Linked DNA regions of Homo sapiens: region 1 is linked to region 2. Evidence: fine-mapped expression QTL. A gene starts in region 2. The other region holds a variant in brackets. All regions are shown on one strand. Distances are between the middles of the regions.

What was found.
Region 1: its variant is fine-mapped to the expression of PDE6G in whole blood (INTERVAL, PIP above 0.99).

The regions. Positions count from the first base shown.
Region 1 is chr17:81,622,918-81,628,282 of GRCh38, forward strand. All of the region lies in intron 2 of NPLOC4 (NPL4 homolog, ubiquitin recognition factor), which reads right to left. Among named protein-coding and RNA genes, the nearest start is that of NPLOC4, 12 kb to the right of the region's middle. The variant G/A (reference allele first, on the strand shown) is at 2,998.
Region 2 is chr17:81,653,978-81,659,342 of GRCh38, forward strand. PDE6G (phosphodiesterase 6G) reads right to left here and starts at 2,565. Exons shown (of 4, transcript NM_002602.4): 1 at 2,516-2,565.

The DNA of each region.
Region 1 (5,365 bases), 31 kb before region 2:
GGCGTGGTGGCTCATGCCTGTAATCCCAGCACTTTGGGAGGATGAGGTGGGAGTATCACCTGAGGTTAGGAGTTCGAGACCAGCCTGACCAACATGGTGAATCCCCGTTTCTACTAAAACTACAAAATTAGCCAGGCATGGTGGCACATGCCTGTAATCCCAGCTACCCGTGAGGCTGAAGCAGGAGAATCACTTGAAGCTGGGAGGCAGAGGTTGCAGGGAGCCGAGATCGTGCTATTCCACTCCAGCTTGGGCAACAAGAGCAAAACTCTGGCCGGGTGTGGAGGCTCACACCTGTAATCTCAGCACTATGGGAGGCCAAAGCAGGTGGATCACGAGGCCAGGAGTTCGACACCAGCCTGGTCAACATAGTGAAACCGTCTCTACTAAAAATACAAAAATTAGCCAGGCATGGTGGCGCACACCTGTAATCCCAGCTACCCGGGAGGCTGAGGCAGAACTGCTTGGGCCTGGGAGGTAGAGGCTGCAGTGAGTCGAGATCATGCCACTGCACTCCAGCCTGGGTGACAGAGCAAGACTTTGTTTCAAAAAAAAAAAAAAAAAAAAGCAAAACTCTGTCTCAAAAAAATAAAAAACCCGGCCGGGCGCGGTGGCTGACGCCTGTAATCCCAGCATTTTGGGAGGCCGAGGCAGGCGGATCATGAGGTCAGGAGATCGAGACCATCCTGGCTAACACGGTGAAACCCCGTCTCTACTAAAAATACAAAAAATTAGCCGGGCGTGGTGGTGGGCGCCTGCAGTCCCAGCTACTCGGGAGGCTGAGGCAGGAGAGTGGCGTGAACCCGGGAGGCGGAGCTTGCAGTGAGCCGAGATCGCGCCACTGCACTCCAGCCAGGACGACAGAGCGAGACTCCGTCTCAAAAAAAAAAACAAAACTCAATTCCAATTCTGAAACCTAACACAGAATGGTGCGACTAAATCATAAAACGTCCACTGTGCAGGGCACTTTGCTAGATGCTGGGAATATTCACTCATTCCTTCAACAAATATTAAGCAGTTCTATGTGCTCAGCTCCATTCTGGGTGTTCAGATCACAAAAATGAACTAGAAAAGACAAGGTTTCTGGCCGGGCGTGGTGGCTCATGTCTGCAATCCCAGCACTTCGGGAGGCCAAGGCGGGTGGATCACTTCAAGTCAGGAGTTCAAGACCAGCCTGACCAACATGGTGAAACCCCATCTCTCCTAAAAATACAAAAATTAGGCCAGGTGTGGTGACTCACGCCTGTAATCCCAGCACTCTGGGAGGCCGAGGTGGGCGGATCACGAGGTCAGGAGATCGAGGCCAGCCTGGCCACCTTGATGAAACCCCATTTCTACTAAAATACAAAAATTAGCTAGGCGTGGTGGCGGACACTTGTTATCCCAGCTACTCAGGAGGCTGCGGCAAGAGAATTGCTTGAAACCAGAAGGCAGAGGTTGCAGTGAGCCAAGATGGCGCCATTGCACTCCAGCCTGGGCGACAAGAGTGAAACTCCGTCTCAAAAAAACAAAAACAAAAACAAAGACAAAAATTAGCCAGGCATGGTGGTGCACGCCTACAGTCCCAGCTAGTCGGTGGGCTGAGACAGGAGAATCACTTCGACCTGGGAGGCGGAGCTGCAGTGAGATGAGATCACGCCATTACACTCTAGCCTGGGCAACGGAACAAGACTCCACCTCAAAAAAAGAAAAACAAAAAAAAGACAAGGTTCCTGCTGTCAAGCAGTTTACCAACAAATGGGGGAGACAAAGTCAACAAAGGTCGAAATAAGCACTACGACAGAAAAGGAAAAGAAACCTCAGATGGGAGGCTAGAAGTCTCTCTGAAGAGCTTCAGCTGAGCAGGGCCCACCCAGCGGTGGGTAAGCCCGCCACACGCGAGCTGGGAGAAAAGGCCACAGGGAGTAGGAGCAAGCACAAAGACCAGGAGGCAGGAAGGGTGTTGGAAACACGGAGGCCAGAGGCCAATAAACAATAAGGAAGATGGAAAGAGATGAGGCTGGCGAGGCAGACAGGGCCGTGGGAAGCCACACAGACGAAAGGCAGGGGGAATCATCATCCACAAAATCCCTGTTGCTCAACACCACACTGAAGAGGAAGCTAGAGTGCCAATTAGAGACAAGAGAGATGGGCTGAGACAGGGGATGAGATGGGACAGGATGGTGGGGATGAAGGCAAGAGCACACTTTCCAGCAGTGGTCATCACCAGGCCCAGCTGACGAGCAGGACCAGGGGCAGGAATGGAATGAGAGAAAGGAAGGAGGTCAGAGTAAAGCTGAGAATTCTAGATTGAGAAACTATGTGGAGGTAACACCTGTGCAGGGACCATGAAAGGAAAGGCTAAAAAAGGAAGAAGACTAGAGGGAAAATCAGGACTTCCATTTGACACTGAGATCGGAGGTGACAACCAGACACACTGCAGTGAAGCCGTCCAGCAGGCAGGTGGGCGCATCTGTGTCTGAGCCCAGGCAAGGGGCCAGAGCAAGAGCTCTACACCGAGGGGTCATCAGAGTAGATGTACCCAAATAAAAGGAATGTGAATCTCGGTAAAGAAACAAATCATAAAAGAACAATCAAATGGAAATTCTAGAACTGAAAAACACAAGAACAGAAATAAAAAATTCACTGAACGGGCTTATCAGCAGAAGGGAGAGAGCAGAAGAGTCAACCTAAACATAGGTGAATAGCTTGTGGTCCCAGCAACTCGGAAGGCTGAGGTGGAAGCACTGCTTGAGCCCAGAAGTTTAAGGCTACAATGAGATATGATCACACCACTGCACTCCAGCCTGAGCGACAGAGTGAGAATCCAACCAACTCTAAAAAGAAAAACATAAATGAATCAATAAAAATAACAGCTATATAATCTGAAGGCAGAGATTTGGGGAAAAAAAAAACAGCCTTAGGAACCCATGGTACAGGATCAAATGCTCCTCACTAGAAAAAAATGAGGGTTGGGCGCGGAGGTTCAAGCCTGTAATCCCAACACTTTGGGAGGCC[G/A]AGTTGGGCAGATCACCTGAAGTCAGGAGTTTGAGACCAGCCTGGCCAACATGGTGAAATCCCATCTCTACTAAAAATACAAAAATTAGACAGGTGTGGTGGTGCACCCCTGTAATCCCAGCTACTCAGGAGGCTGAAACAGGAGAATCGCTTGAACCTGGGAGGTGGAGGTTGCAGTGGGCAGAGATTGCGCCACTGCACTCCAGCCCAAGCGACAGAGTGAGACTTCATCTCAAAAAAAAAAAAAAAAAATTAGCCAGGTGAGCTGGCACGTGCCTGTAATCTCAGTTACTCGGGAGGCTGAGCCAGGAAAACCGCTTGAACCCCGGAGGCGGAGGTTGCAGTCAGCCAAGATCGCGCCACTGCACTCCAGCCTGGGCAACAGAGCGAGACTCCATCTCAAGAAAAAAAAAAAAGAAAAGAATGAAAATAGAACAGAAAAATACTTAAGAGTGGGGAAAACCCCAAAATTTAATGAAAAACATCAAATAGCAACTCCAGGAAGTTCAGCAAACTCTCTCAAGTTAAGATACAAAGAACACCACTGCAAGGCACACCAGAGTCACCCTACTGAAAGCCAGAGGTCAACGAAGACGAGAAGACCAAGAAGACGGTGGAACGACAGCTTCAAATGCTCAACAGGACCAGGCACCGCGGCTCCCGCCTGGAATCCCAGCATCCAGGAGACAGAGTGGGGAGGATCACTTGAGGAAATCAAGACCAGCCTAGACAACATGGTGAAACCCCATCTCTACCAAAAAATTAAGAAATTAGCTAGGAAGCTCACGTGGGAGGATCGTTTGAGCCCGGGAAGTCAAGGCTGCAGTGAGCTGTGACTTTGCCAGTGCACTCCAACCTAGGCAAAAATAATAATAATAATAATTTTAAAATGGACTGGGTGAGGGTGGATCATACCTGTAATCCCAGCACTTTGGGAGGCTGAGGCGGGCGGATCACCTGAGATCAGGAATTCGAGACCAGACTGGCCAACATAGTGAAACCTCGTCTCTACTAAAAATACAAAAATCAGCTGGGCATGGTGGTGCGAGCCTGTAGTCCCAGCTACTCGGGAGGCTGAGGCAACAGAATCACTTGAACCCGGGAGGCGGAGGTTGCAGTGAGGCAAGATTGTGCCGCTGCACTCCAGCTTGGGCGACACAATGAGACTTCGTCTCAAAAAAAAAAAAGAAAAAGGGCCAGGTGTGGTGGCTCACTCTTGTAATCCCGGCACATTGGGAGGCCGAGGCAGGCGGATCATGAGGTCAGGAGATCGAGACCATCCTCACTAACACAGTGAAACCCCATCTCTACTAAAAACACAAAAAACATTAGCCGGGCATGGTGGCGGGTGCCTGTAGTCCCAGCTACTCGGGAGGCTGAGGCAGGGAAATGGCATGAACCTGGGAGGCAGAGCTTGCAGTGAGCCGAGATCGCGCCACTGCATTCCAGCCTGGGCAACAGAAAGACTCCGTCTCAAAAAAAAAAAAAAATTGATGCATGGTGGGGAACAAAAATGAACTGTCAACTCAGAAATCTGTTTTGAGGCCAGGTGCAGTGGCTCACGCCTGTAACCCCAGCACTTTGGGAGGCCAAGGCGGGTGGATCACCTGAGGTCAGGAGTTCGAGACCAGCCTGACCAACATGGTGAAACTCCATCTCTATTAAAAAGACAAACTTAGCCGGACTTGGTGGCGTATGCCTGTAATCCCAGCTACTCGGAAGGCTGAGGCAGAATTGCTTGAACCCGGGAGGCTGAGGCAGGAGAATTGCTTGAACACAGGAGGCAGAGGCTGCAATGAGCCAAGATCATGCCATCACACTCCAGCCTGGGCAACAAGAGCGAAACTCTGTCTCAAAAAACAAAAACAAAAATTAGCCAGGTATTGTGGTGCACACCTGTAATCCCAGCTACTTGGGAGGCTGAGGCAGGAGAACTGCTGGAACCCAGGAGGCGGAGGTTGCACTGAGCCGAGATCACGCCACCACATTCCAGCCTGGGCGACAGAAAAAGACTCCATCTCAAAAAAAGAAATTTGTATTGAATGAAAATATCCTTGGGAGGCCAAGGCGGGCAGATCACGAGGTCAGGAGATGAAGACCATCCTGGCTAACATGGTGAAATCCCGTCTCTACTAAAAATACAAAAAATTAGCCAGGCATGGTGGTGGGCGCCTGTAGTCCAGCTACTCGGGAGGCTGAGGCAGGAGAGTGGCGTGAACCCGGGAGGCGGAGCTTGCAGTGAGCCAAGATCATGCCACTGCATTCCAGCCTTGGAGACAGAGCGAGACTCCCTCTCATAAAAAAAAAAAGAAAAAAAAAAGAAAAAGAAAATATATCCTTCATGGCTGGGCACGGTGGCTCACACTGA
Region 2 (5,365 bases):
TCTTTGCATTTTTGCATTTTTAGTAGAGACGGGGTTTCACCATGTTGACGAGGTTGTCTCGAACTCCTGACCTCATGATCCACCCGCCTCAGCCTCCCAAAGTGCTGGTATTACAGGCGTGAGCCACCGCACCCGGCCCAGCTGCTACTCTGATGAAAGTCCTCTGTGGCTCCTGCTGGGAATGGGCCTGCCAGGCCCAGCAGAGGAGCCTGCCTCTGAGCTGCCCTTCCTGATGGTTAGTGGGCTGCCTCCATCTCAAGTTCCCGCTCAGGGAGGTCTCCCCTGAACCCCCGCCCTGCAGCCACTGTGTCCTTAGGTTCTGATTTGCCGCTTCTCATCACGCGTCGAGTTAGCCCTGATTCCAGGCTGGTGGGCGTCTCCCGGGCTGTTGCCCTCTGATTCTTTTTTTTTTTTTTTTTTGAGACAGAGTCTTGCTCTGTCACCCAGGTTGGAGTGCAGTGGCGAGATCTTGGCTCACTGCAACTTCTGCCTCCCGGGTTCAAGTAATTCTCCTGCCTCAGCCTCCGGAGTAGCTCAGATTACAGGCATGCGCCACCACACCCAGCTAATTTTTCTTTGTGTTTTTAGTACAGATGGGGTTTCACCATCTTGGTCAGGCTGGTCTCAAACTCCTGACCTTGTGATCCACCCGCCTCGGCCTCCCAAAGTGCAGGGATTACAGGCGTGAGCCACCGCGCCCGGCCTAAAAAAGTTTTAATACCTGCCAAAGTAGCCCCCTAGGATCCTATTCCAGAGCTGTGGCTGGAATCTCACCTTTTTTTTTTTTTTAGACGGAGTCTCGCTCTGTTGCCCAGGCTAGAGTGCAGTGGCACGATCTCAGCTCACTGCAAGCTCCACCTCCTGGGTTCACGTCATTCTCCTGCCTCAGCCTCCCCAGTAGCTGGGACTACAGGCGCCCGACACCACGCCCGGCTAATTTATTTTTTTTTTTGTATTTTTTAGTAGAGATGGAGTTTCACCATGTTAGCCAGGATGGTCTCGATCTCCTGACCTCGTGATCCACCCACCTTGGCCTCCCAAAGTGCTGGGATTACAGGCGTGAGCCACTGCGCCCGGCCAACCCCTCTGATTCTTATTGATGGGTTTATTGCTTTCTGCCTCTTGTCTGTGCTTTGCAGTTGGGGTGCTGTCAGTTCCCTTCACCCACTCACGGAGGCATCCCTGAGCCCCTCAGCACCATGACGGGCACCCCGCAGTGCTGATGGAGAATGACCCACAAAATGGGGGGCAGGGTCCCCAGGCACGGCGCCCCTGGGAAAGGGGCCTGTCTCAGAGACTTGGTGCTGAGCTGTGAAGCCCTGCGTTCCCCAACCCCACTTCATAGAGGGACAAGCTGGGGCTTGGGGACGGAGGGTGCCGGGCATGTGTTCCCCCTGCTGGGGGAATCACCAGGCCCTCTCTGTGTCTGGAGTCAGCTCGGGGAGCAGGGTCACCCGCCTGGCGTGGCGTGGCGTGGCTGAAGGGCCTCGGCCGCTCTGGACGAGATCAGTGTCCCTGCACTGCTGCACAGGGTGGCCTCTCCTCCTCCTCTCCCTACAGCCTCTCCCCAGATGCCCTAAGCCCCAGTGACCTGGGCCAAGGGCAGTTCAGCTTCCCCTAAGCCTATTAACAGCAGAGGGGAATTCCTAATCTCCCATCGAGCTGCTGTCAGCTGCACATGCTGCCGGAAAGTTCTGGAAGGAGGCACATGACACAGACAGGAGGGGCTGCTTGCCCGCACTGGATGCCCCAGGGACCACCTCTTGGGGTCCCCTTTCCTGCCCCTGGTCTTTTTGGCTGGGATTCCTGACTCCAGCCCTGGGCTACTACCAGCTGTTTGCCGAGCTTCAGGCGTGAGAGTGATCAGAAAGCAAGGGCAGGTGGCCCATTTTGGGGACGCGGGCTCTGCAAGGGGTGCTGGGCACCTGGGATTGGGGTGGACCCTGCCATGGCACCTTCCCTCACTAAGGTTCAGCCTCTGTCCCCGGGACTGGGACCAGCACCAGCCTGTGCAAAACCAGCACTCAGGAGCCCGGTGGTCCCAGCTGCTCAGATCCCATGGCACCCAATCCTCATATCCTAGATAGCACAGGCCCCGTCCAGCTGCTTCTCCAGCCCTGGGACATGGGCTGTCCTGGGCAGCTCTGGGCCCTGATGGAGCTCCAACCATCAGATGCCATCCATGTGGAAACCGCTGCCTGCGCTGCCCTGGCCCGACCCAGCCTGTGACTGGCGTCCACTCAGGTCAGCTGAGCCCACGTGGCCTGAGGTTCCCAGACCATCACTGGCCTGGGGATGGTGGAAGCACTGGTTACCATGGGGGAGCAGAGGAGGAGGTTGGCTGGGAGTCCCCTCTGAATAACAGGGTGGCGGGTAGGCATCTGCAGACCCAGACCTCAGCCACGGTGGTAAAAGCCTGTCAGCTCCCTCTGCCCCTTGGGTGATGAGCAGACCCCCACTGACTCACTGGGGGAAGTGGCTGCCAGGAAAGACAGCGGGGTTGGCCACTACTCACCAAGTGCAGGGCGGGTCTCAGGGGGCTGTGCTGTGAGTGCTGGGCCTCCCTCCGCAGGGTGCCAGCCCCGGCCTTTATCTCGCTGCTTCATGAGCTGATTAGGCGTCTCAGTGCCACCCTAATGAGATTGTTGGGCCCCGAGGGGGGGCACAACCACCAAGGTTCAGGGGATGGAGAGGAGGGGCTCAGGTGCTGTCAAGGGCTCCAAGGAAGGACACCCAGCAGATGGGGCCGGGACAGGGAGAGAAGTGTGACCCTGAACAGCCAGGCTCCTGCAGCTGCCCATCTTCCAGATGGAAGCAACCACAGTGTCTGCTGTCTTGGGCCTCCCTACTGCCTTTCCTGACCCTGCCTGATCTCTGAAGGGCCCACCTTCATGGTCCCCAAAACCCTCTGCAGCCTGGCCCTCACCCGCTGCTGTGGCCTCACATCTCACCCCTCCCACCCCAGGGCCTTTGCACCTGCTGCTCCTGAAACCAAACAAGGACCCCCCCCCGCCCTTAGGGGCCTGTGGGTCTTCCCAAGCACAGAAGCAAGGACAATGTTGAGTTCCTTCAAGGGCAAGCCAGGCCCCCAGCCAGCCCAGAGAAGGAAATGAGCAGCCGATCCACAGGAAGGTCACAAGAAGGTCACAGGAGCTTAGAACAACAGATGGAAGCCAGAGTCCCGAGAGTCTCCACAGAAGCAAACCATGCCATCTTAGCAGGTGCTCCTCAGTTGTTTTCCAGAAACAGGGACTCCCACCAAAGGGGCGTGCTGGCACACAGACCTCACATGAGCGGGAGCTGAGGACTGGCCTCTGACCACCCTTCTCTTACCTAAATTTCTTCCTGAGGGGCCTGGAGGAGGCTATGCCCATCCTGAGGGGCCTGGAGGAGGCCATGCCCACAACCCAGAGCTAACATTCTTTCCTGCGGATCCCAAAGTTTTAGACAAAGATTCGCTTCTGCACCAAATCAGAAAACCTTTGAATCCACCTATGACCCGTGGTCCCTGGCTTCAAGATCTCCTTGCTATTTATGGCAAAACCAGTGTACAACCTCCATGTACTGATTTATGACTTGCCTGTGACCTCTGCCTCTGCACCTTTAAAAACCCATAACTCAGGCCTGGTGTGGTGGCTCATGCCTGTAATCCCAGCACTTTGGGAGGCTGAGGCAGGTGGATCACAAGGTCAGGAGATCGAGACCATCCTTGCTAACATGGTGAAACCCCGACTCTACTAAAAATACAAAAAAATTAGCCGGGCGTGGTGGCATGTACCTGTAATCCCAGCTACTTGGGAGGCTGAGGCAGGAGAATGGCGTGAACCCGGGAGGCGGAGCTTGCAGTGAGCCGAGATCGCGCCACCGCACTAGAGCCTGGGCGACAGAGCGAGATTCTGTTTCAAATGAATAAATAAATAAATAAATAAATAAATAAAAACCCATAACTCGGCCGGGAGCAGTGGCTCTCAAACAGCGCTTTGGGAGGCTGAGGCAGGAGGATCACTTGAGGCCAGGAGTTCAAGACCAGCCTGGACAACATAGTGAGACCCCCCCATCTCTACAAAAAATAGAAAAAATTAGCTAGGTGCAGTGGCTCACTTCTTATTTTATTATTTCATTTTTGAGACTGAGTCTCGCTCTGTTGCCCAGGCTGGAGTGCAGTGGCCTGATCTCGGCTCACTGCAACCTCTGCCTCCTGAGTTCAAGTGATTCTCCTGCCTCGGCCTCCTGAGTAGCTGGGATTACAGGCTCCCACCACCACGCCCAGCTAATTTTTAATATTTTTAGTAGAGACAGGGTTTCACCATGTTAGCCAGGATGGTCTCAATCTCCTGACCTCGTGATCTGCCCACTTTGGCCTCCCGAAGTGCTGGGATTACAGGTGTGAGCCACCGTGCCTGGCCACAGTGGCTCACTTCTATAGACCCAGCTACTTGGGAGGCTGAGGCAGGAGGATCCCTTGAGCCTAGGAGCTCGAGGCTGCAGTGAGCCATGGTCAAACCACTCCAGCCTGGGGGACAGAGAGAGACCCTATCTCTGAAGAAATATGAAAATTTTGAAAAATTAAAAATAAAACCTGGACGGGCATGGTGGCTCACGCCTGTAATCTCAGCACTTTGGGAGGCCGAGGCAGGTGGATTACTTGAGATCAGGAGTTCAAGACCAGCCTGGCCAACATGGTGAAACCCTGTCTCTACTAAAAATACAAAAATTAGCTGGGCGTGGTGGCATGCACCTGTAGTCCCAGTTACTCAGGAGGCTGAGGCAGGAGAATCGCTTGAACCCAGGAGGTGGAGGTTGCAGTGAGCTGAGATTGCACCACTGCACTCCAGCCTGGGCAACAGTGAGACTCTGTCTCAAAAAATAATAATAAAAATATAAATAGTAAAATAAAATAAAATGTATGAGTACTCCTTTTTTGGTATCATGTATCACAGACAATATACAAAGACAATCACATGAAAATACATAAAGCTCCAAATAGACCTAAACAAAGACCCTATAGCCTTGATTGTAAAACTCTAGCCATGAGACTGGCAAAAATCACTAGTCCAGAAAGGACGGCTGGATTCAAGTTATGCTGCAATAAATGGAACAAGTCAAAAACCTCTTGTCCCACATGGCTCAATCCCTCACTCAGCCCCAGAGGAAACAAGATTGCAATCCATATCTTTTTTTTTTTTTTTTTTTTTTGAGAGACAGGATCTGGCTCTGTCACCTAGGCTGGAATGCAGAAGTGAAATATCGGTGGCTGCAGGAATTCAAGGCTGCAGAGAGCTATTATTGTACCATTGCACTTTAACCTGGGTGACAGAGCGAGACCTCAACTCTGAAATAGTAAAATAGGCCAGGCATGGTGGCT